3 separate regions of the Homo sapiens genome follow, and regions 1 and 3 are each linked to region 2. Evidence: fine-mapped expression QTL. A gene starts in region 2. Each other region holds a variant in brackets. All regions are shown on one strand. Distances are from middle to middle.

What was found. PIP is the estimated chance that this variant, and not a neighbour inherited with it, causes the effect.
Region 1: its variant is fine-mapped to the expression of C10orf143 in whole blood (TOPMed, PIP above 0.99).
Region 3: its variant is fine-mapped to the expression of C10orf143 in whole blood (TOPMed, PIP above 0.99). The same link has a PIP of 0.9 or more in atrial appendage, caudate, fibroblasts, pancreas, stomach and subcutaneous fat.

Annotation. Positions count from the first base shown.
Region 1 is chr10:130,042,878-130,053,017 of GRCh38, forward strand. It overlaps a transcript of C10orf143 not described here. Among named protein-coding and RNA genes, the nearest start is that of C10orf143, 63 kb to the right of the region's middle. RefSeq lists enhancers at 1,496-1,995, 6,109-6,993. The variant T/C (reference allele first, on the strand shown) is at 4,412.
Region 2 is chr10:130,106,318-130,116,457 of GRCh38, forward strand. It overlaps C10orf143 (chromosome 10 open reading frame 143), which reads right to left and starts at 4,513. Exons shown (of 4, transcript NM_001355042.2): 1 at 4,387-4,513. The coding sequence starts at 4,455. LOC102724883 (a long non-coding RNA gene) reads left to right here and starts at 4,976. Exons shown (of 3, transcript NR_188169.1): 1 at 4,976-5,799; 2 at 7,001-7,065. It also overlaps the pseudogene CTAGE7P. RefSeq lists enhancers at 2,718-2,977, 3,568-3,677, 3,838-4,017, 4,878-5,207, 5,688-5,817 and a silencer at 4,208-4,587.
Region 3 is chr10:130,068,610-130,078,749 of GRCh38, forward strand. All of the region lies in intron 3 of C10orf143 (chromosome 10 open reading frame 143), which reads right to left. Among named protein-coding and RNA genes, the nearest start is that of C10orf143, 37 kb to the right of the region's middle. The variant G/A (reference allele first, on the strand shown) is at 4,996.

The DNA of each region.
Region 1 (10,140 bases), 63 kb before region 2:
GATCATTTTGTTAAATGTGTGTATCAGTCGTGGCAAAATACCCTTATCTGTTAAAGACACATACTGAGGTATTCAAGGTGGAATTACGGATTACCTTAATACACTCCAGGAAAAAACTCGGAGACAGTGCGGAAGCAAGCCTGCAAAACGCTGATGCTCACTGCAGCTGGGTGAGGGGCGTGGAGGCTCACTGGCCTAGCATGCTTGAGTATGTTTGAATTTTCCATAACAATATGTTTTTTAAAATAAGAAAGTTAAGCAGCTGATATAATTAAAACACCAACAGATGAGACAATGCTGCCGTAAGTCTCAAGGTTACCGCAGGGAATGCTTCATAACCTAAGTGTGTTTTCCCAAGGAGTTATACGGCAAAAAATTGATCATCATTACTTATAAACATGCTGGTATTCCTGGAAAATTGAAGAGAACGCGTTAACATATTAAAGCAAATTGGAAAGGTTATCAGCTGGCTAGACACAAAACACACCAAATCTAACAGTCCTCCTAAATATCAGCCATAACCCACTGGAAAGTATGATTTTTACAAGATGCCCATTACCAAGACGGGCAGGTGGGAAAAAGCCCCGCCCCTCTGTACTGTGCTTCTCTCTCTGGGCAGCTCAGCAACTTTGCTCGTTCCAGCAGCAGAAAGTCTCTCCCCAACCCCTCTGTCAGCCCTGGTCTTCTTCTCCCCTCCTCAACCATGGCACTCACGCCCAGACCAAGGGGCAGGTTGGGGGAACAAACCCCATAAGCACCCCCAGGTGCCCTGCTCTCCCGCTGAGTCAGACATGCCTTTTCCTGTGCCTGATACCCAGATGTTCTCCCCGAGGGGTGTGGTCTTCCAGAAGTTGAAGCATCTCCACCCCACTGTTCCAGAGGTGCTTATGCCCTGCCTTGGCATAACAAGGGCACCGTCCATCCTGACAGTTAAACCAAAATGAACGAGCAGATGCCCCAGCAATGTGGAGCTCCGCCTCTTGCAGGTGGAACCTACTTGTAGCTCGTCATGATGGGAGGCTTTTTAGTTTCTGCACATTACAGAGGTGACACTCTTAGGGTTGGGGCTCAGCCTGGGCACCTGGACAGTGCCCAGGGGCCTTTGCAGACCATGGCAGGGAGAGAGAGAGAGAGAGAGAGAAAGAGAGAGAGGGAGAGGGAGGAAGGGAGAGGGAGAGAGAGATGGTAAAGAAGGAGAAGACTTTAGCTTGGGACAGCTGGTTTCCTCCAGTCTGACCAGGCCAACATGTGAACCTGGTCAGGAAAGCTTGCAAGGCTGTGGGGATGCTGTCTGGGGACTGCCCCTGAGGAGCCACCCACTGGTGCACTGTGATAGGAGAAGCCTTGGCGGGAAAAGTGACCGAGACATTTGAGAACAGGCTGAGCCTGATGGGGGCCGAGCTGGGAACTGGAGGTGAGATCCCCTGTGACTTAAGAAATAGGATATGCGGATGTGGCTGGAGGAGGAAAGTGGAGAGGTCTTGGCTGCACCCCATGACGCCTCCTCCAGCCCAGCCCAGCCTGGGCTTCCCTTCACTCCCAGGCTTGCTTTTCTTCCTTCCTTCCACATCTACCTGCCAGGTAGGCTCTGCTCCAGCCAGGGCTGCCAGGGAGCCAGGGGCTGGGAACCCCGGGTGTGGTCTTTGAGGAAGGGGGTTTCATTGAGGTGAGCTGGTCACTCTGCTAAGGGCTCGGAAAGGCATCACGCTGGGCTACAAAGTGCACCCAGCTGCAGATGAGCAAAGTCAGGGAAAGGGATGCTTGGCTCTTAAATCCCATTTGGCTTCTGATGGAAGGGGTGCGTGCAAGTTGCCAGCATGATGGAAGGGAAATCATGAACCAGATGACCCGGTGGATCCATTTGTCAACGGACCACTTGTCAGCCTTGGGAAGTCCAGACTTCCTCTGGGGATGTACCCTTGCCACCTGTGTACCCCAGAAAGGGCTTCCTATGGCTTGTGGGACAAGAGGTGCAAACAGAGAGGCCATTACTACCAACAGCAATGCCCAGCCCTGCGCATAGGTGTGCGGATTGCAAGCAGGGTCCTTACTCAGTGAGGTGAAGACCTAGGCTGGAGCTCAGGTCTACCGGCCCATCACTGGCATGTGGCTGATGCTCCAGTGCCTGCCACACCCCGATGCCTCCCTACCGGCCCCTCCTGCCCTGTCCCCCCGTCCCCTCTGTTCTCTGGGGTCCAGGGGCCCCCACTGCCTGTGGAGGTGAACAAAACCCACCCCATGGAGAAAGTTTAGGACCTGACCCAGCGTGGGTCTGGCTTTCCTGAGGGCAAGGAACAGCTTTGTCCCAGTACTGGCCACCTGGCGCCTCCAAATGGCTTTTTCTTGCAGGGCAGGCAGGCTCTGGGCAGGCACCTCGCCAGGCATTGCGCCCTCTGCCTGCAGGTCGGCGGGGCCTGCTCTTCCCGGCTCCTGAAATGCATTTCCTTCCCGACTCCGAGGTCCTGCTTCCAGAACCTTTGGCAACAGAAAAGGAAACCCGCACAGGCGTCAAATGTCTTCGGACTGAAACTAGCAGGTGACGAACCATACAGCCCCAACTCTGCTGCCCCGCCCACAGTGCCCCGCAGACAGTGGCAGCAACGCCCCGCCCCGCAGCACTGCAGCTGCACCCCCAGGACGCCCCCCGCGAGCGCCACGCCCCAAAACCGCGAGGCGCCCCTGGGAGCTGCCTCCAGACCTTCGTTCCGGGAACGTTTCTGTTCTCTGGCATTTTCGTTTGAAGCAGAGATGTCAAAAAATAAATGCAGCCAAGGTGTCAATAGGCTGCCATGGTATGTCCAGCCACACCCCACACAACTGGACCTGAAGTCACGACTCAGAAAGTCACAGCCACGTCCCGCCACGCGGGCGGGAAAACGTGGAAGCAAATGCGATTGCCTCGACTCGAGGCTCAGCTAAGGAGCAGTCAGGTCCGTGTCACCTGTGGCTTCCACTCCCAGGAAGTCTGATGGCTCCGGTCGTGGCTGTTGTGGGGAATCCGTCGTGTGGAGAACGTGCCTGCCACGTGCGGGGGAGAAAGGAGCCACCTTCCGAGTACGCGACCTCACCTGCCGGGCGTGAGGTGCTGGACTGAGACCAGGGTGGGGCTCTGGGCATGGGAGGTGGGGCTGGGCGTGGGGCACGTGGCACAGAGGGATGCGCGTGGTAGGGCTCAGGGCAGACGGAACGTGGAACAGGGAGTGGCTCAGGGCATGGGGATGGGGCGGGGCGTGGGACGGGGCGTGGCGTGGGGCACAGGAAGGGGCAGGGCACGAGGAGTGGGGCGAGAGGTGCTAAGTGGGGCCTGAGTGGGGCGCGGGGCGTGGCGCGGAGTGGGGTGGAGCGGGTGGGGCGAGGCTCGGCGTGGGACACGAGGGACGGGACGCGGGGGCACGGCAATGGGTGGCGCAGGGCGCACTCTCGGGCTCCCTGCAGGTGGGCAGCCCCACCTGTGCACGCCGCTCCCCCGCCCAGCGCCTCCCCCGGGACCTGCTCCAGAAGCGCCAGTTGCGGGACCCCACACGGAAGGCAGTCTTCGGTGGTTCTCACTGCAATTCCTCTTAATTATGTGTGACATAAAAAGACCACCTACAGACGAGACAATGCTGCCGTAAGAGTCTCGGGGTTACTGCAGGGAATTCTTCATAACCGAAGTGTGTTTTCCCCGAGGAGTTATGCTACCATTTGATTTAATTTTTAATTTTTACATTTTAATCAAAAATAGATCAAATGGTGGTGGTCTCTCCGGGGAAACACACTTCAGATAGGAAGCCGGCCATGCTCCTTTAAATATGGAAACTGCCGTCTCCGCGCTGCGGGCTGGGCGTGTCCTTTCTGGGAGGGGCCTTGGGCCATGCACCTGAGGCCACCAGCTCGCCCACGCCGCCCGCTCACCTGCACGCGGAGGTTCATTTAATCCGTGCGTCTATGCAGCGCCTAGGCCTAACTCTCCCAGGAGGCGCCAGTCACGTTCCCCAGGGGGAGCTCCCTGACCTTTCTGGGGGTGACAGAGTGGGGAAGTGGGCAGTGTGAGCCCACCCCTGAGGCGTGTGTGTGTAAGCGTGCACACTTGCTTTTTAACGTTCTGTATTCTAGTCAACAGACAGTACGGTTGTTCAGTTGCAAGGAAAGGCGTTCACACTATAATCCAGGTGTTTCACTGGAAGAGATGTGTCTCGCATCCACAGTGGTCAGCTGGCTTGTCACATCACGGCACTGAGGTTGGTCTAGGCTCCTGCCAATATCCAGATGGGCTCCAAAAGCAGCCACCCAATCCCCTGTGTGAGCCTGGCGGATGCACTGGGTGCATTCTGCAGCTGCTCTGGACCTGGTGTTATCATACAGGGGAGCCTGGTGTGGACCCCATGGGGTTGCCGTGGGGATGAAGTTTCCATGGAGTAAAGTGCTACAG[T/C]ACTGGCTGCAGGTAGGAAGTGAAGCTATTTTGTTCCTGTTGTTATTGCAAGGGAAATAAAGGCAGTCTGCTCCCTCGCTCTCTCTCAGCCCCAGCATCAGCACAGGGCTTGGGGCGGGAGGGTCTGTGTAAGGCACTGAGCGGGGCTGCGTACTTGGTAGGGAAGCCTCCAGAGCCCACCTTCCCTGAGGCTGCCTTAATGCCCTGATGATGCCCACAGCTCTCAACCTGCAGCCGCTTTCTCAAATTCCTGGATTCCTGCACTAAGTAACTTACTAAGGCCCCCCGCACTCCAGGCTTCCTGCGTCCAGAGCTGGTCAGACCCGGACGAAGCCAGCTGAGCTGAATGATGAGGGGTCCACCTTCTCTTTCACTCCTGTCCCTAAACCCATGGACAGGTGACACCCAGGCCACGTGACCCTAGCTCCCTGAGACATACTTTCACATCCTTCTATTTTAACATGGTGGCCTTGGCCTCTAGTGCCCATAAGAGATGCCCAAACCCAGGTTTCTCCTCCTCCCATCAATGTCATTTCCATAAAGACCCACTGGAAACATTTTTTTTTTTCGGATTTATCACCAGGAAAGTAAGGTGGCTTCCCCTAAAGCACAGATGTGCTTCCTTTCTGGAGGCCAGCTGTTTTTGCCTTTGAAGCCCAGATAAAAATCGAGTGCTCCAGTCTGGCAGCCTGACTTTTGGTCCAAGTGTCTCCCCCTCAATACTATTTGCAATTTGTCTCCTGCCTCTGCCTCTGTGGCTCATCACAGGACTTCATCCCAGTCATGGGGCATCACAGGCCCCCTATCATCTTGGTGCCCTGGAGCCCAGTAAGCAGACAGATGGAAGCTATCAGGGAGGAGGAGGCAGGAAGGGGAGGACAGCAGGCTTGCCAGCCCTCTGTGGATATATGACGGCTGTCTGGGGGTCAGCTGTCCAGCTCACCCCTACAGCTGCAGGACAGCAGGCCCAGGGGAAAGATGACCTGGCTGTGGTCCCTCCCTGGACCCACCTGCCTTGACAGAGGGTAAGAGCCCCAGTCTGTGGGTGCCCCTCCTACTGGCCAGGTTGGCTGAGAGTAGGTTCCCTCTCTCCTGGGGCGCCCAATCTCTGCCATCCCCCTCCTTAGCCCCATCATTACCTAGCCTGTGACTGGCTGGATACACACTCGCCTAAGTCCCCAGTACCCTCTGCTGGGACACCAGGGTCCCTGCAAGTCCCCAACTCACGTCACAGGGCAAGTGGATTCAGCTGTTCCAGATCCATGGGAGCCCAAAGAATTGAGACGTGCAGGGACCTCGGTCACTTTTAGGCTCCAAGGGCCACCTACTAGCCCCACGGCTACAAAAGCTCCAGATACTCTGGTGCACCAAGTCTTCCTGTAGACCACGCAATGCAGAGGAAGCCATGAGCTTGAGAGACATCTTCTTTTTAAGAGTCAGAATCTCCTCTGTCTCCCAGGCTGGAGTGGAGTGGTATAACCATGGCTCACTGTCATCTTGAACTCCTGGGCTCAAACAATCCTCCCGCCTCAGTCCCCCAAGCAGCTAGGAGTACAGACATGCGCCACCATACCCAGTTAGTTTTATTTATTTATTCTTAGACATAGGGTCTCGCTATATTGCCCAGGCTGGTTTCCAACTCCTGGTCTCAGAGGATCCTCCTACCTCGGCCTCCCCAGTCACTGGGGTTACAGATGTGAGCCACCGTGCCCAGCTCCATTTTCTTAATATAACCAAATGCAGACGCTCTGAAATGTGCAAGGCCGCAGCTGGCCCCTAGGACTCCGGGGCTCCTTCTCTCAGCACTATCCCAGGTTTACCCCTGAGAGACAAGCCCCAGCTTGTGCTCCTTGCCAGCCCACTGCCCGGGCTTCCTTTGCAATGTCAGGTGCAGCACCTGGGCTCATGCGTTTGCACCTCCTATGTTGGATCTCCATCCACAGGGAAATCATCCAGTGGCGATCATGGAGACAGCAGGCATCTTTGAGCAATGGGGGCTCGGGCAAGCTCCCCCTCTGCCACTGGAGGGAACACTGTGCAGGGGCCCCTCGCCACCCTGTTGTGTTGTGACTCTGTGGCTCATTTATTCAGAGCCGGAGCTCCAAACGACTGATTCCAAGTGGAAAACATGCCCCGGGTGCCATCCAGGGTGGGACAAGCATGGTGTGCGGCAGACCGGGCAGCCCCTGGGCCAGCCAGATCGCCTCCACCTGGAGGGGCCCTTGTTGAACCAGCCCCGGGAAGATGCTTGAGTACCCTTTGGTCCTGGGCAGGGGCTTGGGGACCGGAGCCCCCACTCAGACCGGTGGGTGCTCAAAGGTGGGTCCTGATAAGGGAACCTACAGGGGTTTTGGGTTCACGCTGTGGCCAACTCACGCTGACTTCGCAGTCACTTTGTTGTCGCTGCTACCAGTGACAGTTCTTTTGCAGACAACATGTAGAAAGAGGCGCTTTGAGTCCTGAGGGAGACCATTCCACCGGCAGGACTGAGTCTGGGTTTTTAGAATTGGAAGACCTCACCAAAATAACAATTAGGGAGATTTAAAAGTCAAAGGAAATGACTTAAATATTAAATGAAAAATTCAAGATGTTAATTTGAATTTCTATCCTTGTAGATGGTATTGCTACAGAATCAAAGGAGAGAAAGAGGAAAATACACCGATGGCTGTAAAACCATCGGTGATGAAATTGAGTGGTTTAAAATCTCATCTCCAAGTGTTCTGTGTTTTCAGGGCCTCGACAGTGTGCATGGATAGCTTTTATACCCAGGAGAAAATCATCAGCCATAATGGAAAAACGGGAGGCGGGGCAGGATTCAAAAACAGAAAACAGGTGGTGGGACCCGCCTGGGCGAGACATTCCTGGCAGGCTGCAGGCGCATGACTGAGAAGCAGGAATGGGCCACGCTCACACCCAAACTTCCACTCTCGCTGGCCCCGGCCAAGTGCAGAATTGCGGCTGTGGCTCCCCAAGTTCTGAGGCTCATTAAGAATAGGTTCAGCTGGGTGCAGTGGCTCACGCCTGCAATCCCAGCACTTTGGGAAGCCAAGGCGGGAGGATCACTTGAGCCCAGGAGTTCAAGACCAGCCTGAGCAACATGGCTGAACAACAACAAAAATTAACCAGACGTGGCAGCGTGCGCCTGTGGTCCCAGCTACATGGGAGGTCAAAGCTGCAGTGAGCCCTGGTTGCTCCACCGCACTCCAGCCTAGATAACGGAGCAAGACCCTGTCCATTCATTCATACATAAATAAAATAATCAGAATCATCTTAGTCACAAAATAAAGGCAAAATGGAAAATAACGGGTAGTAAGGCCTTAAAACAATGTGTTTTTTTAAAGAAACTTGAACATCTATACATGCCGTTTCTACCTCCATTACCATAGGGAGCATCTGAGTTCATTTCACATAAACAAAGAAGCATGCATTCTCTCTCAGATGCTATTTAAGAAATTATTCTAAGAGATTGTTTTGAATATAAAGAGCATGTGGCAACCGAATCAGCTCTTAACACGGGATGTAAACCCTGGCGCCTCTCCGTCTGGGGTCAGTTCCTGCTGGAGCACTGACCTCAGCCATAGGCAGGTGTGTGGCCTTGGCCAGTGCCCCGACTTCCTTGTCTCCAACATGGATGATGGTCCCATCTCAGGCTGTGGAGGGACCACTGAGCTGTTACGTGCAAAACACGCCGGCCCGTGCGTGGACAGGTGCAGCGCTGGCTGTGATTACAGTCCTTAGATTCCACTGCTAAGCCAACTTGCCATTTATTCAAGGTTCATGTTTGAAACACACAAAAAATGGAAAACTACAATACATAGCGAACATCCATGTTCTCACCAGAATTAACTGTTAACACTTGGTCATACTTGCTTTTGCTTTTGTGATACTTAGCAAACGGTGACCGTTGTGCTCACCTTCCTTCAGTGGCTGTTGAGTCTCATCTCCCTCTCCTACCCCCGCCTCATTAAGAGTCTCATCTCCCTCTCCTACCCCCGCCTCATTAAGAGTCTCATCTCCCTCTCCTACCCCCGCCTCATTAAGAGTCTCATCTCCCTCTCCCGCCCCCACCTAGTTAAGAGTCTCATCTCCCTCTCCCGCCCCCACCTAGTTAAGAGTCTCATCTCCCTCTCCCGCCCCCACCTAGTTAAGAGTCTCATCTCCCTCTCCCGCCCCCGCCTCATTAAGAGTCTCATCTCCCTCTCCTACCCCCGCCTCATTAAGAGTCTCATCTCCCTCTCCTACCCCTGCCTCATTAAGAGTCTCATCTCCCTCTCCCGCCCCCACCTAGTTAAGAGTCTCATCTCCCTCTCCCGCCCCCACCTAGTTAAGAGTCTCATCTCCCTCTCTCGCCCCCACCTAGTTAAGAGTCTCATCTCCCTCTCCCGCCCCCACCTAGTTAAGAGTCTCATCTCCCTCTCCCGCCCCCACCTAGTTAAGAGTCTCATCTCCCTCTCTCGCCCCCACCTAGTTAAGAGTCTCATCTCCCTCTCTCGCCCCCACCTAGTTAAGAGTCTCATCTCCCTCTCCCGCCCCCACCTAGTTAAGAGTCTCATCTCCCTCTCCTACCCCCGCCTCATTAAGAGTCTCATCTCCCTCTCCTACCCCTGCCTCATTAAGAGTCTCATCTCCCTCTCCCGCCCCCACCTAGTTAAGAGTCTCATCTCCCTCTCCCGCCCCCACCTAGTTAAGAGTCTCATCTCCCTCTCCTACCCCCGCCTCATTAAGAGTCTCATCTCCCTCTCCTACCCCTGCCTCATTAAGAGTCTCATCTCCCTCTCCCGCCCCCACCTAGTTAAGAGTCTCATCTCCCTCTCTCGCCCCCACCTAGTTAAGAGTCTCATCTCCCTCTCCCGCCCCCACCTCAGGAGGCCACCACCATACATCCTTCCGGCCTGTATAAAATAGCTTCTCTACTTTTGCCCTGGGTTAGGAACCTGGACGGGAGCCCGATGGGGGTCACATGCTGCTCTATGGAGCTCCTTGAGGCAAAGAAGTGGGGGTCCATGTACCCCACACAGGACAGCGGTCACCCCTGGGCCACCCAATCATGGAGGGTGACTCCAGGTACCTCCAGGTGAGGCAGCTTGAACCACCAGGGCGATCTCTGGAGAAGGTAGCCATGGGAGCCGGGAGCACCAAGCACAGTCCCCCACACCCAGAAGCATCCCCGGGATAGTTACTGCCCCCAGATGACACAGCCAGGACACGTGAGGTGCAAGCTGGGTCTCACGCCCAGACCAGCTTTGAGGAGGCTGCCCCAGCCTGCGTCAGCCCCATAGGACACTTGAGGTTACACAGCTGAATCTTTGGACCCCCTCACCTTGTCATCATAGACTTTTACTGTACCTATCTAATCACAAACGTAAGCTGCCTATTTTAATATCAGGAGCTATTTTAATAAAAGTACAGGATTAAAGGAAGAGCTTAGACCAGGACACCAGTGAATAAGACTATCGGTCAACTAATCAGCGTTACTCTTTCATGGTCCTCTCAGTACCCTTGAAGATAAAGAAAATTATTAGTAGAGCATTTGAAAATTCTTGCATTCACTCTGAAGAGAAAAACAATGCATGTTCTAAGAATGTTTTCCAAACAGCTAACTCTAGTCGAGTAGTGGTGGAGGTCATTCGTACAGTAAACCTTTGCAGCCAAACAGGAATACCAAGTGGGCAGAGTCTTGCACATTTCTATGAATTGTGTATACAGAGGAACTATGGGCAGGCAGTGGC
Region 2 (10,140 bases):
ACTACTTGAAAAATTTAGCCTTGTTCAAAAAGAGTATGAAGACTATGAAGTAGCGTCATCGTTAGAGGATGCCAGCTTTGAGAAGGCGGCAGCAGAAGCACGAAGTTTGGAGGCAACCTGTGAAAAGTTGAACAGGTCCAATTCTGAACTTGAGCATGAAATTCTCTGTCTAGAAAAAGAGTTAAAAGAAGAGAAATCTAAACATTCGCAACAAAATGAATTGATGGCGGATATTTCAAAAACGATACAGCCTCTAGCAGATGAGTCAGAATCCCTCAAATCACAAGTAGCTGAAGCCAAAATGATCTTCAAGAGATTTAAAATGACTGAGAAACAACTGAAGATAGCAATAAAAGATGCTTTGAATGAAAACTCTCACCTTCAGGAAAGCCAGAAACAGCTTTTGCAAGAAGCTGAAGTATGGAACGAACAAGTGAATGAACTTAATAAACAGAAAATAACATTTGAAGACTCCAAAGTACATGCAGAACAAGTTCTAAATGATAAAGAAAATCACATCAAGACTCTGACTGAACATTTGCTAAAGATGAAAGATTGGGCTGCTAGGCTTAGAGAAGACGTAACGGATGATGATAACTTAGAAGTGAACAGTGAATCAGAAGATGGTGCTTACTTAGATGATCCTCTAAAAGGAGCTCTGAAGAAACTGATTCATGCTACTAAGTTAAATGCTTCTTTAAAAACCTTAGAAGGAGAAAGAAACCAAATTTATATCCAGTTACCTGAAATTGATAAAACAAAGGAAGAGCTTACAGAGCATATTAAAAATCTTCGGACTGAACAAGCATCTTTGCAGTCAGAAAACACACATTTTGAAAGTGAGAATCAGAAGCTTCAACAGAAACTTAAAGTAATGACTGAATTATATCAAGAAAATGAAATGAAACTCTACAGGAAATTAACAGTAGAGGAAAATAGCCGGTTAGAGAAAGAAGAGAAACTTTCTAAGGTAGACAAAAAGATCAGCCATGCCACTAAAGAGCTGGAGACCTACAGACAGCGAGCCAAAGATCTTGAAGAAGAATTGGAGAGAACTATTCATTATTATCAACGGCAGATTATTTCCCATGAGAAAAAGGCACATCATAACTGGTTGGCAGCTTGGGCTGCTGAAAGAAACCTCAATGATTTAAGGAAAGAAAATGCTCACAACAGACAAAAATTAGCTGAAACAGAGTATAAAATAAAACTTCTAAAAAAAGATCCTTATGTACTTGATGTTCCAAATACAGCATTTGGCAGAGAGCATTCCCCATATGGTCCCTCATCATTGGGTCGGCCTTCATCTGAAACGAGAGCTTTTCTCTCTCCCGCAACTCTGTTGGAGGGTCCACTCAGACTCTCACCTTTGCCTCCAGGGGGGGAAGGAAGAGGCTCAAGAGGCCCAGGGAATCCTCTGGACCATCAGATTACCAAGGAAAGAGGAGAATCAAGCTGTGAAAGGTTAACCGATCCTCACAGGTCTCCTTCTGACACTGGGTCCCTGTCACTTCCGAGGGAACAGGACCGTAGGATGATGTTTCCTCCACCAGCGCAATCATATCTTGATTCAGCTCTTCCTCCACAAAGGCAAGACAGATTTTATTCTAACTCTGGTGGACTGTCTGGACCAGCAGAACTCAGAAGTTTTAATATGCCTCCTTTGGATAAAATGGATGGGTCAATGCCTTCAGAAATGGAATCCAGTAGAAATGACACCAAAGATGATCTTGGTAATTTAAATATCCCTGATTCATCTCTCCCTGCTGAAAATGCAGCAACTGGCCCTCGCTTTGTTCCTCCACCTCTTGCCCTAATCAGAGGTCCACTGTTTCCAGTGGATACAAGGGGCCCGTTCATGAGAAGAGCACCTCCTTTCCCCCCACCTCCTCCAGGAACCAGGTTTGGAGCTTCTCGAGATTATTTTCCACCAGGGGATTTCCCAGGTCCACCACATGCTCCGTTTGCAATGAGAAATGTCTATCCACCGAGGGGTTTTCCTCCTTACCCTCCCCCAAGACCTGGATTTTTCCCCCGACCCCCACATTCTGAAGGTAGAAGTGAGTTCCCTTCAGGGCTGATTCCGCCTTCAAATGAGCCTGCTACGGAACATCCAAAACCGCAGCAAGATACCTGGCAATATTTTTGCTCTCTTCAAAAGTAATTCTGACTGATCTCATTTCAAGTAACTGCTGTTACTTAAGTGATTACACTTTTGCTCAAATTGAAACTTAATGGAATTATAATTCTTAGGATAGTATTTTGTAAATAAGGATGATTTAAATATGAATCTTATAAGTAAATTATTTCCATTGTATTTTATTCGATAGTATAACTATTTTAATTTGATTAATCCACTATTATAGAAACAACAGTGGGAGTTTTACGTATGTAATCTTGCAGGTGGGGAGGCTTTAAATTCTAAAGGCTGTGTCTTTATGCCAACAACTGTATTTACTGTAGGTGTAGACAAATGTGAAAGTAACTTTATGCTTAAATAAATTTTAGTTGATTAAAGAAATTCAGATAATCCACATGATAACCATTCAATCACTAGCAGTATTTGCCACGTCTCCACTAAACGTCTCAAAGTCGCAGAAAACACAGCATGGCCTAACAGGAGCTCTTCATTGCCTCCACACCACTCTTCTCTCAAGGAGCAGCAGTACTGCCCTCGCAGGGCTCAAGTCAACCCCTACAACACCCTGGACTCCACTCTTCACATTACCCTGCCACTGCCACTCCATCAGTGAGACTGTCTGCTCTCCCTCTACACAGTCACGTCTCTCTAGTGTCACCACCCCACTGCCCTCTCTTGTGCAAACCTCTGCCACTTCTCCTCTGACACACTACTGTAGCCACAAGCCTTGCCTCCCTGCCTGCACCCTGATCACACCTTTCATTTTCCAGGGCAGTGAAGTAAGGTCTCAACACATCAGCATAATCATGTCACTTTTCTGTTTGTTTTTCTGCCATCTGGTAGCACAGTAGCAGTGAGCCACCCTTGGCTATGCAGAGGAGGGTGACACCCAGGGGATGGTGTGAGGGGAAGGAACTTAGGTCCCCGCATATCCCCTGATCTGGGTACCACCAGCCCTACGCCTATATTTAGTGACCCTGGGCTCCACCCCACTGGACTGCTCACGTCCATGCTGTTCTGTGCAGGAGAATCAAACTTCCATCTTGTTAGGGCCAGCGTGCTTTGAAGGCTCTTGGTTACAAAAGCACCCTAACCTGCTATATTACTGTACTATACTATTACTATACTACATTACTATACCATATTATTACTATATTACTGGGGTAACCTGCACCCTAGTAATATAACAATTGGTACCTGGAGGAGGGGTGCGGCTGTGATAGAAACCTAAGTGGTACTGGCTTCACGGCCAGGCAGTGAGTAGTGAGGAAAGAGATGGTGCAGGGTAGAAAGCTAGTCATTCCCGCTACGCAGTAAAGACATCTAAAAAAATGCTGCCTGTATTAACTGGGAAGACGGATCCTGCACTTACCAAGCCTGTGTAGCTCTAGAAGAAAAAAAAAAGCAAATATGCGGTATGTTGGCTGCTCACTGCTGCCCCTAGCGAGGAACTTTGAAATAAACGAGGTTAAGTAAGAACTGGCCAATTTGCAAGCAGAGGTGGAAGATAAAATACAGGAATGCCAAGCAGCTCTGTCTTCCAGCTCCAATCCTGCAGTACTTCTTTCAGTGCCCCTAAGACGCTAAGCTCCTTCCTCCAACACTGTTTTTTGTCACCTCCCATCCTGCCTACCCCCGGTCATCCTTCAAGTCTCACACATACCTGACTTACCCACGCACCCTGGGATCTTGTGCAAGTCTCCCCATTACCATCTCATCTTACCCTCTGCTCATCAGTTAATGGACTCAGCCCAAGAAGCACTAACACGCTCAATGCCGGGTAATTTTCTGCGCGTGTTCGCTCCCCACGTACTCGTCCCCCAACACCCAGCCCTGGGCCTGGCACGTGGCAGGCGCTCAGTGAACGAGACTCAGGAACAGTCAGGTGTAGACGGCAGGAGAAGACATGACACGGATACCAAGCACCCGAGGTCCTGCAATGAGTCTCGGCCCATGTTTTAGGGAGCCTGGGTCTGGAGCCCCAGTGAGCGTGTGGGTCAGGAAGGTGCCCGAGCTCCGCGCCCGACCGCGCAGGCGCGAAACCGGGAGAGCGGCGTCACAACCCCGCCCTAACAGGCCACGCCCATCACTGGCCACGCCCTCCCAGGGACGTACGCGAGCGTGCGAGTGTCTTGGGCCAGGCCTCCTCACAGGCAGGGCCGCGCCGGCAAAAACGAGGCGCGGTGGGAACCCGCCCAGGGGCCATCCGCCCTCCCGTCCCTAACGCCCAGGCCCCGGGGGCTCACCACGTCCCCCGGAACCTGCAGATCCTCCGCCCTCCGCTGTCGCCAGCGGCCGAGCGCTAAGCTGTCCATGCAGCCCCAGGGTCAAACCCTCCCGGCATCTCAGGCCTGGCCGAGGCCCGCGCACCACGCCCCCTTCCGCACAAGGCCCTGGGGAGCCAATAAGGAGAGGGAGGGGCGGGACGCCGCGGGAAGCGCGAGAGCACCAAGGCGAGGACCGCAGGCAGGAGTAGCAGAGACCAGAGTCTTCTGAGACTATTGGGATGCTGTGGGCGTTGTCCGTCTGCCCCAAGTCATTACTTCGCAGAGAGGTCCCTGCATATCTCTGCTTGTCGCTTCTCCCTTCACAGGAGCAGCCGTGGGGCTCTAAAGAAAGCATTCTTTCAGGATCCCGCCAAACTTTTGACAACACCCCGTGGATCGGCTGGAGGAGCGCCCGCCTCCTCTGTCTTATGATTGGTTGTTAGGCCTCGTGGGGAGCCGTCTCCCTGTGGCTGGTTGGCTAATAGATGGCGCAGCGGGTCAATTAGCTTGAGCGAGACAGCGGGTGTTTCTGGGAGTTGTGGTCCGCAGGGCTGCCTCGCTTCCGGGTGGGAGCTGCTGTTGCCGCGGTGGGAAGACGCAGAGCTTTCAGGCCAGCCCCGCGCGGCTCACGGCTTTTGTGGCTGGTGGCTGGTGGCTGCTGGTTGGGAGGCCCCGGAAGGACTTCTACTCCTCCGTAGGCTGGAGGGCACTAGGAGGTCGCAGGTGCTGAGCTGCCGGGGCCTTTGGGCTGTGCTGAAGGGGAAAAGCGCAGCCACTGTCGGGAGTGTGTGCTGTGGAGGCAGTTGCCGCGGTGATGTTCGCTCCGCCTGGCCCCTGCCGGGGATTCAGCCAACCAACCCTCAACAGCCGGCGGCGGCTCAGTCTCTGGCCCGGCGCGGTGCTGAGCACCACTGAGCCCTCATCTTAGGGCACCGAGGCCCGGACTCCTGCAGCCGCATGTCCAGGCCCCTCCTGCCTTAGCACGGAGCTCCCTTGACTGCTCCAAACAGCCCAGACTGGCGCCTTTTTTGGATAAATTAAAACGGGGCCAATCCGTTGCCAGCGATTGGCTAACGATGGGTACACGACCTAGTACGGGCCAGGGAGAAGTAAGCGAGGTCTGTTGAGGCAGAGTTTCGGGAAAGATCTTCTAGTTAAAAGGGGAGTTGGGTGGGTGGGGGCTGTTTTCTTCCTGTTGTCCTTGCCCAGTGTAAGTTTCCTGGAGCTGCAGCAGCCTTTTTGTCACCATGAGGGCAGCTGGTGGGAACCCTAGGAAAGCAGGAAATCACCTAGAGCCGGAACAGCCTGAGCCTCTGAACCAACCCACAGCTGACTACCCGTCACTTTGTCGTGTCTCTGTGATTTGAGTCCATCATTCTGCTGCAGTTGAAGGTATCCTTTGACAAAGCCCTGTTCTTAACCATTATGGTGAAACGCATGAATCCCTCTTCGGGCTATTTGCTGCATGATCCTCAGCAAATTAAATAGTTAATCTCCCTCAGTTTCCTCATTTATAAAGGATAGGATGATAAAGCATAGAGATCGTGAGGATTACATGAGGCATTTACCTAGAAGATACTTAGAACAATGCTGGACACAAACTAAGTACTTAACAAATGTAACATTTCTCCTATTAGTTAGTACTCCTAAGACTAATTATGCCACCACTGATTCACAGTCCCTTATCAAAAACCTTTCAGGCCAGATGTGTTTGTGAAATTCAGAATTTTTTGAATGTTTAAAAAAGGTGAGATATATTGTATGCCCCCGTAGTCAAACAATGTTTCTATAGCAGAAATGTGTGAGTATTCACAAATATTCACCCTAAGTGGGATATATAAAGGTTGTAAATAGGGCCAGGCACAGTGGCTCATGCTTGTAATCCCAGTACTTTGGAAGGCCAAAGCGGGAGGATTGCTTGAACCCAGGAGTTTGAGACCAGCCTCGGCAACACAGTGAGACCCCCGTCTCTACAAAATAAAAATAACAAAATTAGCCGGGCACTATGGCGCCCACCTGTAGTACCAGCTACTCAGAAGGCTGAGGTGGGAAGATTGCTTGGGCCTGGAAGGTTGAGGCTGCAGTGAGTTGGCTGTGATCACACCACAGCACTCCAGCCTGGCCAATAGAGTGAGACCCTGTCTCAAATAAAATAAATACAATAAATAAATAAAGGTTGTAAATAGTCTCATATCAGTTCAAATGAGTTTACTCCAAGCGTGGGGAAAAACTAATTTGGAGGACTTTCTGCATTTCAGAATTGAAAATAAGGTATGTTGTAGGCCTCTCAAAATGCTTGTCTTGCAGTTTAGATTAGATGACTTGCTTTGTTACCCACTTTTGATTCGCTGGCCTTTATACTGATGGCTGCTTTTCAGATGTGTATAAGAACAAAATTTCAACAAATTTAGTTTCAAAGATCTGATTGGTTTTTAATAGCATTGCATGCACCAGGCAGTCTACAAGATAGAAAGGTGCTCCAATGAGGACCGAGTGGGTGAGTTTGACAGGCAGGAAAAAGTGGAGGAAAGCAGGAAGAATGAACAAATAGCAGATCAGTCATTTCAAGGTTACTTTCCTTATAGAGGTGTAGACGAAATCTTGGTGTAATGTAATTTGGCTTTCATCCCTCTCCTGATTTCTCAGAAGATCTTACAAGTAAGCAACCCAGGTTTCAGTTTGGTAGCATGAATCCTTAGCATTTAGTGACTCCAGTTTTGGTCTGCTGTCTTTCTTAAATGGATGCATGAGGCAACCATTGGGTACTGGGGGGGGGACTGCTTAGCTTAGGAATGAGATACAGCAATAGGTATATTTAGAAGGATGCAGTTTAGCTTAGCACAGTATTTACCAAGCATCAGTCACTTGGGTACTAACTGCAAGATGTATGCTAAACCTCTCCTATTATTTACATAGTATATTTATTTAAATTCTCAATATCTTAAGTTTGAAAAACTTTAAAAATAATATGTGACATCTATAAAGTGATGGTTTGAATGCTCACTATTTTAATATGTTAAATAGATTAATTATTAGAAGAAAATATGGGAGGTCAGGCACAGTGACTTATGCCTGTAATCCCAGCACTTTGGAAGGCCAAGACAGGCGGATTGTCTGAGGCCAGGAGTTCAAGACCAGCTGGCCAACATGGCAAAACCCTGTCTCTGCTAAAAATACAAAAATTAGCCAGGCATGATGGCGCATGCCTGTAATCCCAGCTTTTTGGGAGGCCAAGGCAGGAGAATTGCTTAAACCCTAGAGGCGCAGGTTGCAGTGAGTCAAGATCACACCGCTGCACTCCAGGCCTAGGCGACAAAACAAAACTCTATCTCAAAAAAAAGAAAGAAAGAAAAATTGGCCAGGCACAGTGGCTCCAGCCTGTAATCCCAGCACTTTGGGAGGCCAAGGCAGGTGGATCACAAGGTCAGGAGATGGAGACCAGCCTTGCCACCATGGTGAAACCCTGTCTCTACTAAAATACAAAAAATTAACCAGGCATGGTGGTGGCGGCACGTGCCTGTAGTCCCAGCTACTCGGGAGGCTGAGGCAGGAGAATCTCTTGAACCTGGGAACCTGGGAGGCAGAGGTTGCAGTAAGCCGAGACCACGCCACTGCACTCCAGCCTGGGTGACAGAGTGAGACTCCGTCTCAAAAAAAAAAAAAAAAAAAAAGTAAAGAAAATATGGGAAAACTTCATGATATTGGATTCTTGCATATGACACCAAAAGCACAGTCAACAAAAGAAAAAAATAATTTGGACTATATCAAAATTTAAAATTTTGTACATCAAAGGACACTATTAATCCAGTGAAAAGGCAACCCAGGAAATGGAGAAAATATTTTCAAATCGCATATCTGATAAGGAGTTAATATCCAGATTATATAAAGAATACCTGGCTGGGTGCAGTGGCTCATTCCTATAATCCCAGCACTTTGGGAAGCCGAGGTGGGTGGATCACGAGGTCAGGAGATCGAGACCATCCTGGCCAATATGGTGAAACCTCATCTCTACTAAAAATACAAAAATTAGTCGGGCGTGGTGGTGTGTGCCTGTAGTCCCAGCTACTCAGGAGGCTGAGGCAGGAGAATTGCTTAAACCTGAGAGGCGGAGGTTGCAGTGAGCCAAGATTGCGCCACTACACTCCAGCTTGGATGACAGAGCGAGACTCCATCTCAAAAAAAAAAAAAAAAAAAAAAGAATGCCTACAACTCAACAACAACAACAAAAAACCTGATTGAAAACATGGACAAATACCAGCATGGGCAAGACAGCAAGACCCTGTCTCTCCAAAAAGCAAAAAATTAGCCTCTTGCTAGAGAGGCTGAGGTGGAAGGATCACTTGAGTTCAGGAGTTTGAGGCTGCAGTGAACCATGATCTCACCACTGTACTCTATCTGAGGTAACAAAGTGAGACCCTGTCTCAAAAAAGAAACAAAACAGAAAAATAGACAAATAACTTGAATAGACAGTTCTCAAAAGAAGATATACAAATAGCCAATAAGCACATGAAGATAATATCATCAGTTATTAGGGAAATGCTAATCAAACCCGTATTGAGATACCACTTCACACCCATTAGGATGGCTATTATCAAAAAGAAAAAAACAGTGACCAGGCACTGTGGCTTATGCCTGTAATCCCAGCACTTTGGGAGGCTGAGGCAGGCAGATCACTTGAGGCCAGGAGTTCAAGACCTGGCCAACATGGTGAAACCCTGTCTCTACTAAAAATACAAAAATTAGTCAGGTGTGGTGGTGCAGGCCTGTAATCCCAGCTACTCGGGAAGCTGAAGCAGGAGAATCGCTTGAACTCAGGAGGCAGAGGTTGCAGTGAGCCAAGATCGTGCCACTGCACTCCAGCCTGGGTGACACAGCGAGACTCCATCTCAAAAAAAAAGCAGCCGGGCATGGTGGGTGGCTCATGGCTGAAAACTCAGAGCTTCATGAGGCTGAGCTGAGCGGATCACTTGAGTGTAGGAGTTTGAGACCAGCCTGGGCAGCATGGCAAGACCTCATCTCTACAAAAAAACAGAAATACAAAAATTAACCAGGTATGGTGGCTCCCGCCTGTAGTCCCACCTACTCAGGAGGCTGAGAGGTGGGCAGATTGCCTGGAAGGTCGAGGCTGCAAGTGAGCTGAAATTGTGCCACTGCACTCCTCCAACGTGGGCAACAGATGAAGACCCCCTCTCAAAAAAAAAAAGAGAAAAAGAAAATGACAAGTTTTGGCTAGGGTGTGGAGAAATTGAAACCCTTGTGCATGGCTGGTGGGAATGTAAAATGCTGTAGCCACTGTTGAAAACAGTGTGGTGTTTTTTCAAAAAATTAAAAATAAAATTACCGTGTAATCCAAAATTCCACTTCTGGGAATATACACAAAATAACTGAAGGCAGGGACTCAGAACAGACATTTGTACACCCGTGTTCATAGCAGCATTATTCCCAATAGCCAAAAGTTGGAAGCAACCCAAATGTCCATCAGTGGATAAATAAAATGTGGTCTGTATGTGTATATATATAATATTCTACTGTATATATATATATATATATATATGGTAGAATAATACACAGCCTTAAAAAGGAAGGGAATTTTGGCATATTTTACAACACGGATGAACCTTGAAGATGTAATGCTAAGTGAAATAAGCTAATCACAAAGAGTCCAAACTATGATTCCACTTATATGAGCTGCCTAGAATAGTGAAAGGTGTGGAGACAGAAAGTTGAATGGTG
Region 3 (10,140 bases), 38 kb before region 2:
TCAAAAAAAAAAAAAAAAAAAGAAGATTATGATTAAGAATTAAAGAAAAGCAGAATGATGTCTCACCAAATAGATAATTATCAATAAAGAGAGAATTTTATACATATAAACTAAACAGAAGTTCTACAGTTTAGAAGTATAAGTGAAATTAAAAACTCATTAACGGGGATCAACAGCAGATTTGAGCAAGCAGAAGAAAGAACTAGTGAACACAAAATCAATTGAGATTATCCAGTTTGAGGAACAGGAAAAAAAAAGCGAAGAAAAATGAACAGAGCTTCGAAGACACCTGTGCAGCTCCATCAGGTGTCCCAACACACCTCTAAGCGGGAGTCTCAGAGGAAAAGGACACAGAGAAAGGGCAGAAAGAGTATTTTTAAAATAATGGCCAAAGACTTCGCAGATTTGATTTGAAAACATTAATCTATATATACAAGAAACTCAATTAACTTCCACTAGCATGAACCCAAAGGGATCCACACCTAAACACATCATAACAAAGTGATCTAGAACCAAAGAATCTTGAACACAGAAAGGGAGAAGCGACATACTATGTGCAAGTGAGCCTCAGTGATACCAACAGCTGATTTCTCATCAGACATCATGGAGTGAGAGGCAGCCAGATGACATACTCCAAGTGCCAGAAGAAAGACTGTCAGCACCTGTTACTCTACTTCAAAACCATGTGGCCACATATGCCTTTCCTCAATATCCAACAAAACCAAACGACATTGAAATTATAATGATAGAGAAATTAAGACATCCCCAGATAAACAAAAACAGAAAATCTGTCGCTAGAAGACTTGCCTTACAAGAAATGCTGATGAAATACAGAACACTAGATAGTAACTTACATCCTCACGCTGCAACCATGTGAATGGAGTTTTGTTCTTCTAATTGACTGTTACCAGTAAGTAAGAGTCTATCTATTTTTGTGTGTTCATCTTATATTCAACAATCTTGCTGGATATTAGTTCTACTAGTCTATCTGCAGATTTTCTGGAAAATTTTTTTTTTAAGAGATGGGGTCTCACCCTGCTGCCTGGGATGGAGTACAGTGGCATAATCATAGCTCACTGCAGCCTCCAACTACTGGGCTCAGGCAATCCTCCTGTCTCAGCCTCCCAAAGTGCTGGGATTATAAGCATGAGTCACTGTGGTCAGCCTTGGATATTCTATGTAGATAATTATACCATCTGGAAATAACAATTTAGATTTTTCTCTTTCCAATTCTTATGTCCATTGTTTCTTTTTTTTTTTCTTATCACATTATGCCAGCTAGGAGCCCTAGCATACCGAGCAGAAGTGCTAATAGCATCCTCGTCCTTTTCTCTTCAACACAGATGCTTCCACTAAGTATCACGTCCTTAATTTTTACCAGAAGAAAGCCTTCTATTTCTGGTTTGTGGAGTTTTTAAATATATATCATGAATGGGATTCGCATCTGACTGTATGCTGTTGCTGCATGTAACAGATGATCTCTATTTTCCCTTTTATCAGACAATGCAGTCATTTTTCTAATGTTAAATCATCCATGTGTTCTTTCATACAGGGTTTTTAAAATCTGTAAAATCCCTGTGATGGGAGCTTTTTGATAACCTTCCCAGATCCTTCCATTGTTACTGATCTGATTCTGTTCTCTGTTCTTGAGTCAGTTTTGGTAACTGAATTTTCTGGGGTGGGGAGAGGAACCCCACTGCAGTGGCCATCGCACCCCCGGACCTGGTGCAGCCTGTCCACATGCACGTCACAGTGCAGTCCCCTTAGCAGCTCAAAGATGCATTCCAAGCTCTTCTGGCATCTATTGCTACTAATGAGAGATCTGTTGTCAAATTATCATCCCTTCATGCTTAGCCAGTCATTTCTCTCTAGCAGCTCTACACGTTTCTCTGCCTTTGATGTCCTCCAGTGTCATGATGACCTATCTATGTGTGGATACATCACACCCAAGACTCACAAAACTTAGGGGATAAAACATTAGATATCACCAAAACACTGCACCCTGAGCCCTTCCACTCAGTAGAAATAACGCCCTTATTTTGAAGTTGTTTACCACTCTCATAAATGTTTTTATTCCTTTAGTAGATATATATCAATGTTTCCCATGCTTAAAATTGTATCTAGATAGTATCATTCTACGTAGATCCTTCTGTAATTTCCTTTTTTCTCCATTTGATTTGATCCATTTTCACTGCTCTCTGTAACACTTCATTGAGTAAATCTATTGCAATTCATTTATTCATTCTATTGATGAACATTTAGGTTGTTTCTGGCTTTTCTTACTCTAACAGTGCAACAACAAATATTTTGTTTTGTTTTGTTTTGAGACAGAGTCTTGCTCCGTCACCCAGGCTGGAGTGCAGTGGTGGGATCTTGGCTCACTGCAACTTCCACCTCACAGGCTCAAGTGATTCTCTTGCCTCAGCCTCCTGAGTAGCTGGGACTACAGGCATGCGCCACCATGCCTAGCTAATGTTTTTTGTATTTTTAGTAGAGATGAGGTTTCACCATATTGGCCAGGCTGGTCTCAAACTCCTGACCTTAAGTGATCTGCCTGCCTCAGCCTCCCAAATACAACAAATATTTTGTATACACTTTCTTGGGCATCTACTAGGGTATACACCTAGGACCATATCTTCTAGCTTACCAGAAATGCCCACCATAAGCTTTACCCATGTACATGGCTTCTGAGGAAGTGAACACATCCTTTCACTCTACCTCACTCACAGTTATAGCACCATTTTTATTTTTGCTAATTTGATGGTTTAATTTGCAAGCCCTTAAATTACTAGTAAGGTTGAACACCTATTTATATTTATTGGCTATTTTGGGTTTCCTCTTCTCTGAACTGCCAGGTCATATACTTTGCCCATTTATTTACTGGACTGATTTGCATATTTATTCAAGAAACCCATCTTTATATTTTGTGCATTGTAAATATCTTTCCTGCAAAAAGCTTTTCTTAGACAATGATGAAAGAATTCTGATATGTAGCATGTCTTAATATATACAGTTATATTCTATATTTTTTTTTTGAGACACAGTTTCACTCTTGTTGCCCAGGCTGGAGTGCAATGGCACAATCTCGGCTCACCGCAACCTCTGCCTCCTGGATTCAAGAGATTCTCCTGCCTCAGCCTCCCGAGTAGCTGGGACTACAGGCATGCACCATGCCTGGCTAATTTTTTATTTGCAGTAGAGATGCAGTTTCTCCATGTTGGTCAGGCTGGTCTTGAACTCCCAACCTCAGGTGATCTGCCCACCTTGGCCTCCCAAAGTGCTGGGATTATAGGCATGAGCCACCGCGCCTGGCCGTCATATTCTATATTTTCTACTAACAATGTTAAAGGTTTTTCTTTCATATATAGGTTCTTATTAACTCCCACCCCCACCTCCCACCTCCTAGAATTGATTTTGTGTGAGGCAGAGATCTAATTTTATCTTTCCTCATATATGGATAACTAATTGCCCTGGCACAATTTATAGGTGTATGTAAATCTCATTTATAATGCCTTCAAACTGCCATATATGCATGTTTAAAGATCTCAATTTTATTTCATTGGTTAGTCTACACTTAGGCCAATTAACACATTGTCTTAATGGTCACAGCTTTGTAATATATCTTGATATCTGATGGATAATTTCCCTTGCTTGTTATTCTACTTCAAAATTGTTTGACCACATATGCCTTTCTTCAATTCTGGAAAATTCTCAGCCATTATCTTTTCAACTATTCTACTCAAACATTCTCTAAAGTCCTTCCTTCTGGATTTCCTAATGGGCATTCTCATTCTTTCCTCTATGACTCCTAATTACACTTTTATACTATCCATCTTTTTATCTCTCTTGCTGTGCTTGGGGGATTTATCCAGCTCTATCTTCTAATTCACTAATTCTGTCTTTAACTGTGTCTAATCTGATGACTTTTTAAAAAAACTTCAATGAACATATCATGCACTTTTAGTTCTTTTTAAAAAAACCTTCCAATTTTTTTTCAAACTGTCTTCCTTTCTTACTATGGCTCTATTTCTTCTTTAATCATTTTATAAAATAACTACAGGATACTTCAGAGACATGGCAGGCTTGGTTGCAGAACACTGCAATAAAGTGAGTCACACAAATTTTTTGGTTTCTCAGTGCATATACAAGTTTTGTTTACAATATGCTTGTAGTCTATTAAGTGTGCAACAACATTCTGCCTAAAAATATGTACACACCTTAATTTAAAAATACTTTGTTGTTTTAAAATGCTGACACAGAAGCATGAGATGAGGATATGCTTTTGGGACAATGGCACCAAACAGACTTGTTCAATGCAAGGTTGCCACAAATCTTCAATGTGTAAAAACCACAGTACCTTCAAAGCACAATAAAGTGAAGTGCAATAAAATGAGTTGTGCCCGTACTTTATATCCACCTTCAGGTTCTTCAATTATTTCAGATTGTTAGAGACTTTGATTCTACTGTTTATTTCTTGACCCCTCTTCTCACCATGGTGGTAGATTTGTTTATGTGCTTATTTTTCTAGTGTGATCTTATCCTCCGTGGGGGTTGTTTTATCTCCAAATCTCCTACACACTGGGTGGTGGAGGCATGCCTACAGGACAGTTCTGCACCTGCTGCCACCCAAGGCCTTCAGGACTTCAATGGGCTGCAACTGTTTTTATGGCAGGGCTTCTACTTTTGGTTCCTGTATGACTGAGATAAAATAAACTTGGAGCCCATACCCATGCATGGCCTGGTATTGTAATTTCCAGTCCCCTTTTAGGGTACAATCAGATCTTCAGGCTCTAAACTTTATGCAAGGATCCAAATTCTAGCTCCCACACCTTTGTTAGGCCAAAACCACATCTATCTCTGGACGTGAGCATTCCAGTTCCCAGCCCTGGGTGCAATCTAGGACCAAACCCAACAAGTACCCAGACCCAGGAACGGCCACTAAAGAGTGTGTTGGTCCCAACGGCACTACTTTTGTTTTCTCTCTTCGCCTATTAC[G/A]TGATCAGCTGTGTGTTTTTTTTTTATCAGAGTCTACCTTGAGTCTCTGCAGCAGGAGGGGGACACATCTGTGTTGGTTTTATCTAACATGTTTGTAGGAAGTCTAAATTGAACTTGTTTCTTTTTTCTTCTAGTCATCTGAAGCCCCTCAGCTCCTTCAGTGCCAGAAAATGACCTAAATAACAGTTAAAAATTTTTTTAAAGGTAGTTTTTCAATATCCATATTCCAGAGAAAGTACTCACTGTCAGCTACTGCTAGATGCTAAATCTGAAGATTTTGTCAGTGGTCTATTCATACCCATCTATTCTGGGATTCGTATTTGGCTATACTGACACAGCCAGACTCTTCCATTCCCAGCTTATTCCCTCACAGTGTGAGTAAATCAGCCCTGTGTCTTAGCCAAGAGCTTCTCACTGTGTCCGGGGATGAAGTCCACAAAAACCCGCACTGTCACTGCCACAGTTCTCATAGGGTGTTCGAGCCTGACGCTGGGCCGCCAGTCTTGGGGAGTGATGCCGGCATGCTGACTGCAAACACACTGATCAGCCAAAAAGAGCAGAAAGCAGAGGGGGCTCCAAGCAGAGTGCTCAGGCCCCTGCCTCCCCATCAACCACGGTGCATGGCAGTCCAATGGCTTAGCCCCTGGGGACCTCACTTTCCTTATCTGTAAATTGACAGGGTTAGACCAATGAACTCCAGGATCCTTGACAAACCTGGGGGTAGAAATGCATGGAGCACAACTTGATTCTTACAGAATGATCAATGAAGTTCCCGTTGATCCCTCCATGATTGTGTTTTCTTCTCTCAGGACAGAAGAAGAAAGAACTGACAAGGATGCTTGCTATCAGCTGTGGCCGAGACAGGACACAAAGAGCAGGGCACTGCGCATCGATCTCTGTTCATCGATATCAGAACGTTACATTTCCATCTTTGGTCCCGTCCCCAGCTTGACACTCGGACCCGCCCTAGCAAGCACAGGCAGTGTTCTCAGCCGTCACTGCAGGCACCAGAGGAGGGCAGAGATCACTGGGTTCCAAGGCTTCCTGTTCTAGTGCAGTATTTATAGATGATGTAGGTGTAGAAAGCAATGACCAATAATGTACAAATATGTAAACAAAATAAACAGAAATACTTTAAAGGTAACCCATTTGGAGATAAAAAGAAATACAAAGAAAAAATGCATCCATTTAGAATCAGAATAATCATACTTTGGCTCCTCCTGGTGTCCCTACAAGGGAAAACTGAACCAAAACAATAGGTTTGGACCAAACACCTCCCTTCCCCTGCCCTCAATTTCTACTCCTACGTTGGCTGACTCCACACACACAGACATGCACACACACTACATATGTACACAGACACACACATGCACACACACCATATATACCACACACACAAATGTTGTCAGGCAATAGATTTCAATGTCAAAAAGTGAATAATACGGAGGCTTATTAAGACTGCTCCTTTGCTATTTGCCCTCAATGAAAAAAAAAAGAAAAAAAGATAAGGCTAATGACAATGCTGGTATCCAGAATCAACGTGGGGAGCGGAGACTCCATGGCACCAGGAAACACCATGTTTTGCATGCTGGCTTTTCAGTGGTAACTCCCTACCCGTTTGAGTAATAAAAACCAATAACCACAGATAAAAGGCAGCGAAGGAGCATTAGCGATGGGCAACATTGAAGGGCCTGACTGTATTTTTAACTTTCATGTCCAGGCTCTCGGGACTCATGTGGCTTATCACCAGGATCAGCCCTGCCAGCACTCTGGAGTGCCAAGCTTGCGGACTACTGACTGAGCCCTTGCAGGGGACAATACAGGCCCGGAGACCTCTGTTAGAAACAGCAACTTTCCTCCCCAGGAGAATCTGTCCATTCATTAGCTGATTAGCGCTGGTAAGAAAACAGAAACCAATCTAGGTATATTTCAAACAGAGGGACTGTAACAAGATTTGGCTACACAAATGATGGAAGAGATGAGAAGCCAAACGGGGGAGCTGATATGGTTCGGCTCTGTGTCCCCACCCAAATCTCATCTGGAATTATACTCCACACATGTTGGAAGGGAGCTGGTGGGAGGTGACTGGATCATGGGGGCGGACTTCCCCTTGCTGTTCTCGTGATAGTGAGTTCTCATGAGATCTGGTTGTTTGAAAGTGCATAGCACTTCCCCTCTGGCGCTCTCTCTCTCTCCTGCTGCCATGGTAAGGCATGCTTGCTTCCCCTTCACCTTCCACCAGGATTGTAAGTTTCCTGAGGCCTCCCAGCCATGCTTCCTGTACAGCCTGTGGAACTGTGAGTCAACTAGATCTCTTTTCTTTATAAATTATCCAGTCTCAGGTAGTTTTTGTGTGTGTATGTGTGTGTTTTTTGTTTGTTTGTTTGTTTTTTTTTTTGGAAATGATGGAGTCTCATTCTGTCACTCAGGCTGGAGTGCAATGGCGCAATCTTGGCTCAATGCAACCTCCACCTCCCAGGTTCAAGCGATTTTCCTGCCTCATTCTCCCAAGCTGGAATTACAGGCACCAGGTAGTTCTTTATAGCGATGTGAAAATGGACTACTACAGGAGCCAAACACTCACCAGGAGGACAAAGGGAGGAGGAGGTGGACCTCGCAAGAGATGGGCCCAGAGGGACTACTCTGCAGGAGCTATGTACTGCGGGAGGGCTAGAGAGAGAGAGAAATGCTCTGGCCTCCTCCTCCTTCTCCCCCACATTCCTGTGTCCCACCAATGCCTCACGTTGGCTGGATTCTCCCAGAAGTCAGAAGCAAAGGAGTCTGGGAAACAGTCTCCACAACACAGAGGAGGGGCAGACAAAGGAGGTCGGAGCTGAGAAAAAAACAGGCAACAGGCTGACCAGTGACCCAGTAAGATCTGAGGGTGGCCCCTTCTCCAGAGGATTCCAGCACTGAGAGGCTACAAAACGTCAGAGACCAGAGACCACTAGGAAAACACGGTGCTGAGGAAATATCATCATATCTCCCCTCAACCAATATCCTAAATCCTTTCTACAGTTCTCTGCCTTATAAGCCTTCCTCCCCTTTTCATGTACCTTCTTTTGATTATTTTGGAGACCTCTGGCAGACCCCTAAGGTTTCATTTAATTGCTCTGAATTTGCAAGGAGCAGCTTCATTTCCATTTCACACTTGGTTACCGTGTGGCCTGTGCACACGCAAGCCGCGCGATCCGGGAATGGAAGCCTGCAGCCTAGGTGACTGTCCAGCATGGGAGCCATTGGTGGCAGGAAAGGAAGCCTCCTAGCCATGGCGATCATCCTCTACGAGACTTGCAGCCCCAGACAGCACATGACAGGGAGAGCAAGCAGCCCGACCCTGGGCAGGAGCGGACGCCCTGATGCTGCAAGACTGGGTCCCACCACATTCATTTCGATCATCAGTAACATGAGCAGGGTGATTCAGGGCTACGAGGTGACGGTCCTAAATAATAATGTACAGCAGGAGATAAACCCTAACAGTAATTACTATAAGAAACCACCTCAGTCACTCCTGAAATAGTAACCATTGTAACAATGGTTACAATACGCCAGAATGAGTCAACAGAAATAGACCGAAATGCAAACTTGGAAAATGAGGTTGAAGAGGTCTACCGAGGAAGTCCTTGCATATGAGAAAATGTCAAAACCCTGTATGTGTGAGAAACAACTCAATCATAAACATAAGGAAAAGCTTAGGAACAGAAGGACCACCAAGCTCAGACGGCTATACTGAGAATTCAGAGCAGAACAGATCAGATTAGCTGACATCCTACGAAGGTCAAAAATACACTAGAGAATTCAGGATGCAAGGGAGCTTACTGGAGAACAGCCACCAAATAAACTGAGAATCACATGTAAGTTTCCCATTAGGAATTCCACACAAACTACCCCTCACATCACCTTGGCTTCTCTCTGACCAAGAGAACCATTCTGAGCTGCCTACGGGCATCATGGGAGAGTGGGCAGGCCCACGTGTAAGCAGGCATTTGTGAATGGAACTGCAAGTTTAATAAAGTCTTCTGAAATTTGGAATTGTGCCCCATTGGTGATTTATTGTTAAGCACGACTCCCAGGGATCTTGCATCTCTAAAAATACTATTTGCTTTTTATTTAACACTGAACCTTTTGATGTTTTATAATACAAAAATAGTGTCTTATTATTTTAAAAGCTTAGGAGAGAAACTAGCCATATTATTAGAAGAAGAAGATATATGCAGCTATAGTCTGTTCAAATATCAAGAGGTGTGACTTTTCAAATTCACATTTCAATCTTTATTTACATTAGACTTTCAGAAGTAGTGGGTGTAAATATTAAAACGCCCAAGCCTGGGTGAAATTTTATTGAGAATAACTACAAATAAAAGGAAACTGATTTTTTAAAGTCAGTTTCTGAAATTTAGATGAAAAGAATATTGAGTATTAACAAAAAAATGATATTTACATATCAATGAAGGTTTTCTGCTCATAGATTCATTTCCTACGAAACATAACAGAGGCAAGCTTGGGGAATTACAAAGAAAGGAAAAACCCTAATCAAATAGGTACTGTTGTTCAAACAGAATATTAGCCAAAATGATCCAATCAGTTGCTTGAACTAAATTTTTTTTTTCTTTAAGCCATTCATGCCAGAACACAAGCTCTCAAAGCAGTAAGAATCTGTACTACATTCCAAGTGTTTGCTTCCAACAGATGGGGGGATGTGAAAGATACATTCCATGGAAATGGGGTGGGGACAAAGAAGGCACCGGTCAGTCATCGGCAAACAAGGAATGCAACCCCAATGGAGGCATAGTTCTCAAAGTAAGCATTATTCGTTTGTATTCTAGGGTATGTTTAACAGTTACATGAATCAACATAAGCATACTAAATTCAAGTTGCTGGATCTTTAATTTCAACATTGTTCAGAATTACACCATAGAATGCAACATAACCTATGAAAATTTTTCTAAAGAGAGTACAAAAAGTAGCAAAGTATACCTTCATGGAATGAGTTACATACTAAACTTTGTTTTCCTATTTGTCTAAGGACTTCAGATAATTAGAGGTTCACCCTGTCATCAGACACGGTGATGGCTGTCATGGTTTCAGGTCTCCGTTTGAAACAAAATCAGTGCTTATCATCGTAAAACACAGTAGCTTACAGTA